Homo sapiens: one gene and its partner. The protein of the gene in region 2 purifies or fractionates together with the protein of the main gene of each other region. This does not show direct contact. Each region holds a gene or a part of one and is shown on either strand. Other genes may lie near its edges.

Evidence for each region.
Region 1: the proteins of OR4X2 (region 2) and XAF1 purify together in Homo sapiens (affinity purification with mass spectrometry; one large-scale study listed by BioGRID and IntAct). This does not show direct contact.

The regions. Positions count from the first base shown.
Region 1 is NC_000017.11:6,769,513-6,773,341, forward strand, and holds part of XAF1 (XIAP-associated factor 1), read left to right. Parts: intron 1-1,130; coding exon 1,131-1,472; coding exon of another isoform or gene 1,473-1,529; exon of another isoform or gene 1,530-2,837; intron 2,838-3,600; coding exon 3,601-3,657; 3' UTR 3,658-3,829. UniProt on the Homo sapiens protein: Seems to function as a negative regulator of members of the IAP (inhibitor of apoptosis protein) family. Inhibits anti-caspase activity of BIRC4. Induces cleavage and inactivation of BIRC4 independent of caspase activation.
Region 2 is NC_000011.10:48,243,729-48,246,660, reverse strand, and holds OR4X2 (olfactory receptor 4X2), read right to left. Parts: upstream 1,558-2,932; coding exon 646-1,557; downstream 1-645. UniProt on the Homo sapiens protein: Odorant receptor.

The DNA of each region.
Region 1 (3,829 bases), on a different chromosome or scaffold from region 2:
TTTACAGTCTCTATCCTATAGTTGCATTACCTGAACTTCTTGGAGGCTAATCTGACTACTTTTGTGTCTGTGACTCTTACTCAAGGTGGATTGCTTCCTTGTGTGTTTGTAATTTTGGATTGTGAGTTTCTATCTGGTGGGACTCTACCTATGAGGATCCTCTATGACCTATTTTGAGGCTGTTGTCCCTCCAGAGGAATTTTGTGATTGCTTCTGCCAGACATCTCAATGTTTATGTTAATTCTTCTGCTCAGGGATTCCCAGACCATGAGGCCAAAGTAAATCCTAATCCCACACACAGGAATGGCATGGACCTGTGATTTTGAGTTTTCAGGGGCATAAGTTTTCATCTCCACACTCAAATACCGACCCAAGAAAGAAAAGCTTCCTTGCCACTTTCCTTTTCTCATTAGCTGATACTTTTCCTCTTACCCACCATAATTTATCCTTTAAAGTTTCCAGCTTTATGCAGGATCAATAGAGTCTTACTTCCAAATCCCCACCTGTGTGGATGGGACTTTCCTGTCATCCAAGCCCCTAGTTACAAAGTTGACCCTACATCTCCCATAAGCAGTGTCAACTCCTGTGCTTAACCAGTCCATTTGTGCTGCTATAACAGGATGCCACAGACAGAGTAATAATAAAGAACACAAATTTATTTCGAACAGTTCTGAAGACTGGGAAGTTCAAGATCAAGGCACCACCATTTGGTGTCTGGTGAGGGCCTTCTTGCTGCCTCCTAGCATGGTAGAAAGCAAAAGAGTAGAAGGCTGTAGCCAAATACTTCATGAATCCTCTTTTATAAGGACCCTAATCTCATTAAAAAGGGAGGACCTTTCATGATCTAATCACCCCCGAAGGCCCCACCTCTTAATACCATCACATTGGCAGCACCTGAATTTTGGAGGAGACACATTCAAACCATAGCAACCAGTCAGACCTTCATTCCTGGAATGCAAAATTTTCTTTCTTTCCTGCAAAGCCAGCTATTAAATTGAATGTCTGTCACATTTTATACACCATATAAAAGTGTTTACAGTGGGAATTTCTTGTGTTATCTAGTCTACTGTATTTTCTGACCATTAAAGCTGAAGTCATTTTAAAATTTGATATATTATTCACAATTGCAGGGTAAATGTTGTCCAGACTCAGAGTTTAAGAAACACTTTCCTGTTGGAAATCCAGAAATTCTTCCTTCATCTCTTCCAAGTCAAGCTGCTGAAAATCAAACTTCCACGATGGAGAAAGATGTTCGTCCAAAGACAAGAAGTATAAACAGATTTCCTCTTCATTCTGAAAGTTCATCAAAGAAAGCACCAAGAAGCAAAAACAAAACCTTGGATCCACTTTTGATGTCAGAGCCCAAGCCCAGGACCAGCTCCCCTAGAGGAGATAAAGCAGCCTATGACATTCTGAGGAGATGTTCTCAGTGTGGCATCCTGCTTCCCCTGCCGATCCTAAATCAACATCAGGTACTCAGCCTCTGTTCTCTGCTTACCTTTCTGGGAACCATCCGCACAGTGTCTTAAAAAAATCCAAGACCTGAAAGATGTTCACAAATGTTGTGGCTGAAAAGGCCGTTTTCTCTGACTCCCACTTCTCTGGGTGCCCAAATGCACTATCTCGTAGCACTTACCACCTGGTTTATTTGCATCACCTCCGAGAGACTGAGTCACCTTTGACTCAAGCCAGGTCTTTGAAGGTAGAGCCAGGTCCCTCTTCTCTGTGTCTCCAGCTTCTAGGCCAGGGATTGATTTGGAGCAACTGCTTCAAAACTGTTGAGTAAATGAATGAATCAGAGGATACCCAGTCTATCTCTCTCATGGTGTAGATATGGCACTGAGGCCCAGAGATGAGATGTCTTGGTCAAGATCCTAAGCCAGTTGGTGGTGGCTTACCTCCAGCAGATCAAGGTTTGCTTCAAGAAGATCAGGGTTTGTAGGCATCTCCCTGAATATCATGATTTTTATGTCCTAGGTTATTTTCTAGTAATAATAATAACTGGCATTAGAGGTTGTTAACCATTGTGTGCCAGTTACAATACAGAGCTCTTTATAATCTTCATCATAAACAATAGGCATGCATTTTATCTCCATTTTACAGATAAGGTGAAGTAGCTTTCCAAGGAGTATACAATTAGAAGGTGGCAGGATCCAGCCTGAGTCCACATGTATATAGCTCCAAAGTTTATGCTCTTAAGCTCCAGATTAAATGCCTTACTTAAAAAATTTATTTTTTTTCAAAATACATAAGTACTAGATTTTGTTGGAGCTAGTTGATATAATATCATATAAAGAAGTATAAAAGCAAAGCTAACCCTAATTCCCCAACCCCATACCCTGAGATACCACTTTGGACAGTCTTATGGGCATCTTTTCAAAGCTCTACCTTTGCATATACAAGCCTAAACAAGCATATACTGGGTTTTACTTGTTTCTTTTTCCACACATATTATCTTACTATACTTTTTACTCTGCCACATGCCTTTTTCACTTAGTATATGATGCATGCTTCTTACAAAAGACTTAGTATGCCAAAACCTTTTTTTCTAACTTCCTTGTGCATCTATGTATGCACATAAGCATATAATTTTACAAAAATGGGTTCATTTCATATTTGCTGGGGGTGTTACTAGTGCCATTTTTCCTTGCCTCCCACAATTTGGTATATTTCCTTTCACAGTTTTCTCCATCCTTATATAACAGAGTCGCCAGATTTAGCAAATAAAAATACAGGACATTCAGTCAAATTTGAATTTCAGAGAAACAAAGAATTGTTTTTAGTGTAGGTATATTCCATGCAATGATTGTTTTGCTAAAATTAAAATTTAACCAGGACACCCTGTATTTTATTTAGCAATTTCTTATATAACCACCATACAAACATACACATTTGGAGTCCTGTTATATACATTTTTTCACTTTTTTTTTTTTGAACCAGTAAAGCTGCCATCTTTTTTTTTTTTTTTTTTTTTTTGAGACAGAGTCTCGCTCTGTCACCCAGGCTGGAATGCAGTGGTGGGATCTCGGCTCACTGCGATCTCTGCCTCCCGGGTTCAAGCGATTCTCCTGCCTCAGCCTCCTGAGTAGCTGGGAGTACAGGCACCCGCCACCACACCCAGCTAATTTTTGCATTTTAGTACAGATGGGGTTTCACCATGTTGTCCATGCTGGTCTTGAAATCCTGACCTCAGGTGATCCACCCGCTTCAGACTCCCAAAGTGCTGGAATTATAGGGCATGAGCCACCACGCCCAGCAACATTTCTTTACATCCTAATGTAAATTCAGCAATACCCAAGGAAATCCCTACAAACAAAACAGTGTGGCTTATTTTTATTAATGGCTGCCTAAGATTCCATGGTGTGAGTGTTCTCCCATCTGTCCCTCCACCCAGTGATAGCAACAGGCCCCTGTTAAACTTTGTCGCAAGCCTCCTATACTTCTGGCTCAGTGGGCTCCTGACCTTTTCTATGCCATTACACTCCAGTCTTTGGGCAGGGCTCATGCTCTGTAACAAGGGACAGCAATATCCAGAGATATTCTAGGAGCTAGCACTTCTTACTTTAACCATATCAAACTTTTTTTATATCCATTTCTTAGGAGAAATGCCGGTGGTTAGCTTCATCAAAAGGAAAACAAGTGAGAAATTTCAGCTAGATTTGGAAAAGGAAAGGTACTACAAATTCAAAAGATTTCACTTTTAACACTGGCATTCCTGCCTACTTGCTGTGGTGGTCTTGTGAAAGGTGATGGGTTTTATTCGTTGGGCTTTAAAAGAAAAGGTTTGGCAGAACTAAAAACAAAACTCACGTATCATCTCAATAGATAC
Region 2 (2,932 bases):
GCTCTCCTTGTGTTTTTTTATGATTAGACTCAGGTTGTGTATTTTTGGTAAGAATAGCACAATAATGATATTGTGTGCCTCTCCAGTGCACCATATCAAGAGGCACATGGCATCAATGGATCTTATTTCTGGTGATACTCACTTTGGGCAATGGTTTAGAGGGGAAGGGCTATAAAGTTACATTTTTCTCTCTGTAATTAATACCCCTTGGTGTCCTAAGGAAAGATACTTTGAAACAATGTAAAATCATTTCTTATCCAAAAAAAAGTGTTTAATGACAGGATTCTATTCTGTCAAGAGCACTTTCACAAGATAGGTGACTCAGTGTAACACTGTGCACCAAAAGTCTTTATACTCTAACACTAAATTCACTCTAGGAAATAAGCCTAAAAGAAAGTCAGAAGCATGGTTAAAAATGTCTATTCAAGAATATTAACTACAGTGTTATTTATGGTGGTAAAAAATTAGTACCTCCACAAAAAGAAATACTATTCAAGTTATGAAAATGAACTTTTTAAAGAGAGAGGCCAGGTAGAATAATCTGCAACTAACAGGTCCTGTGAACTTTCCTTCAACCTATTCTGCTCCTTCAGTTTGGACTCAACAGTCATTCTAAACCCAAGTATCAATACAAAGACTCAGCCTCTATTTCTCATTTAGTCTCAATGTCCTAATCCACAGCCTCTTCATGGCCTTCCTCATTTCAGCATTTCTCAGAGAGTAGATGACAGGGTTCAGGATCGCGGTTATCACTGTGTAGAACACAGCCACCATCTTGTCTATGGGCAGAGTGGTAGAAGGCCTCAGAGAGTTGAAGACGCAGGGCCCAAAGAACAAGATAACCACAGCGAAATGGGACCCACAGGTGGAGAGGGCTTTGCACCACCCTTCAGAGCTCCAGGTTCTCAGATGGAGCAAGATGACCATATAGGATGCTAAGAGGACCCCAAAACTGATCACAGACAGGGTGCCTCCATTGGCAACAATCAGCAGACCAATGAGGAAGGTGTCAGAGCAGGCAAGTTTGAGAAGGGGAACTAGGTCACAGAAATAGTGATTGATCACATTGGGGCCACAGAAGAGCAGGTGGAAGATGAGAAGGATTTGTGCAAAGGAATGCATGAAGCCTCCCACCCATGCTATTCCTACAAGGACAGTACACACCTGCCAGTTCATGATGGTGGTGTAGCTGAGGGGCTTGCAGATGGCCACATAGTGGTCATAGGCCATCACAGTGAGCAGGAAAATCTCAGTGCCACCAAAGAAGTGCAAGAAGAAAAGCTGTGCCATGCAGCCCCACCAAGATATGACTTTCCTTTCAGCCAGCAGATCTGAGATGAGTTTGGGGGCTGTAGCGGAGGAGTAGCAGATCTCCATGAAGGAGAGGTAGCTGAGGAAGAAGTACATGGGGGAACCAAGGCTTCTGCTGGTCATGACAGTGAGCACAATGAGGAAATTCCCCAGCACAATTGCTGTGTACAAGAACAGAAATATCACAAAGCAAACCCTCTGCACCTCCTGGTTGGGAGAAAGTACCAGAAAAATGAATTCAGTCATGTTGTGTATGTTAGCCAAGAGGTCATCATCAAGAGGCAGCAATTTGGGTGGTGTGATCTGAAATGATACAAAATACTTCTTCACTCAGTGGGTGAATTACATGAAAGCCCTTGCATAGCTGAGATGCTTCTGAGTTGGAAATTGAAAGGTGAGTAGGAGTTAGTTATGTGTAGAAGGGAAGAGCATTCCAAGAAGGCAGAGAGCAAGTACAAATGCTTTGTGTGTGGCTGGAATAAAGGGGAGAATAGCAAAAAAATAAAGCTGTAGATAGACATTAGTACCAATTTGTGAAGGACTGTTAGGGCCTTTGAGGACCCTAGCAGTCCCAAAGTGTTTTTCCTTTTAGTTGATGAACATGCTTGATGATTCCCCATTGTCTGCAGGATCAGACAAAGTCTGTAGTATGTAGAACTAAAGTGTGGAAAGGGCTGTCCAGTGGAAACAGATTAGAGGAGGAGCTCTATTAGGAAGTTAATAAGTCCCTCATTGGATGATGTGGAACAGCCAGGATAGTGTTACTGTCTCCATGTTAGATGAGTGTTTTAAATTATCTTGTGCCTACAGCTTTCCTTCATGCCACTTCCTTCTCCTTTTTTTTTTTTTTTTTTTTTTTTTTTTTTTTTTTCAGACAGGGGCTCACTTTGTCACCCAGGCTGGAGTGCAGTGGTGTGATCTTGGCTCACTGCAGCCTTGACTTCCCCCAGCTCAAATGATCCTCCCACCTCAGCCTCCTGAGTAACTAGGACTACAGGCATGTGCCACCATGCTCTGCTAATTTTTATATTTTTTGTAGAGATAGGGTTTCACCATGTTGCCCAGGCTGGTCTAAAGCTCCTGAGCTCAAGCAAGCCACCCACTTCAGCCTCCCGAAGTGCTGTGATTATAGGCATGAGCCACTGCTCCTGGCCTTCTTTTCTATCCTTGGTTTGCAGAACAGTGTCCTCAACCTCTCCACATACCATTCAGAGTCTTTAGAAGAGATATCCCTAGTGGACCTCCTTTGACAATCAACATCTCCTCTTATTTCTGCTTCTCCCTCTAATTCTCACATTCTACACTTGGTCACTTGGTGAGCTTGTCCCCTTCCAAGGGCCCAGCTCAACTTAATCCATGTATGATTCTCCTCTTTACTGGGGCTTTCACTTTCTCCAGTCACATCCTCCAGTGGCAACAAAGGTCCAACACCCCCCATACACACACACACACACACACACACACACACACACACACACACATCCCAGTGCCCCCTCATGCTCTGACACATCCTTCTCCACAGCCCAGGCTTTCAACACCTCAGAGCATCACCAAGACTGCTCAGGACTGATTGGCAGGCTGTCCCAGTCCATGCTGAACTCTGTCCAAGGTGGCTAAGGTT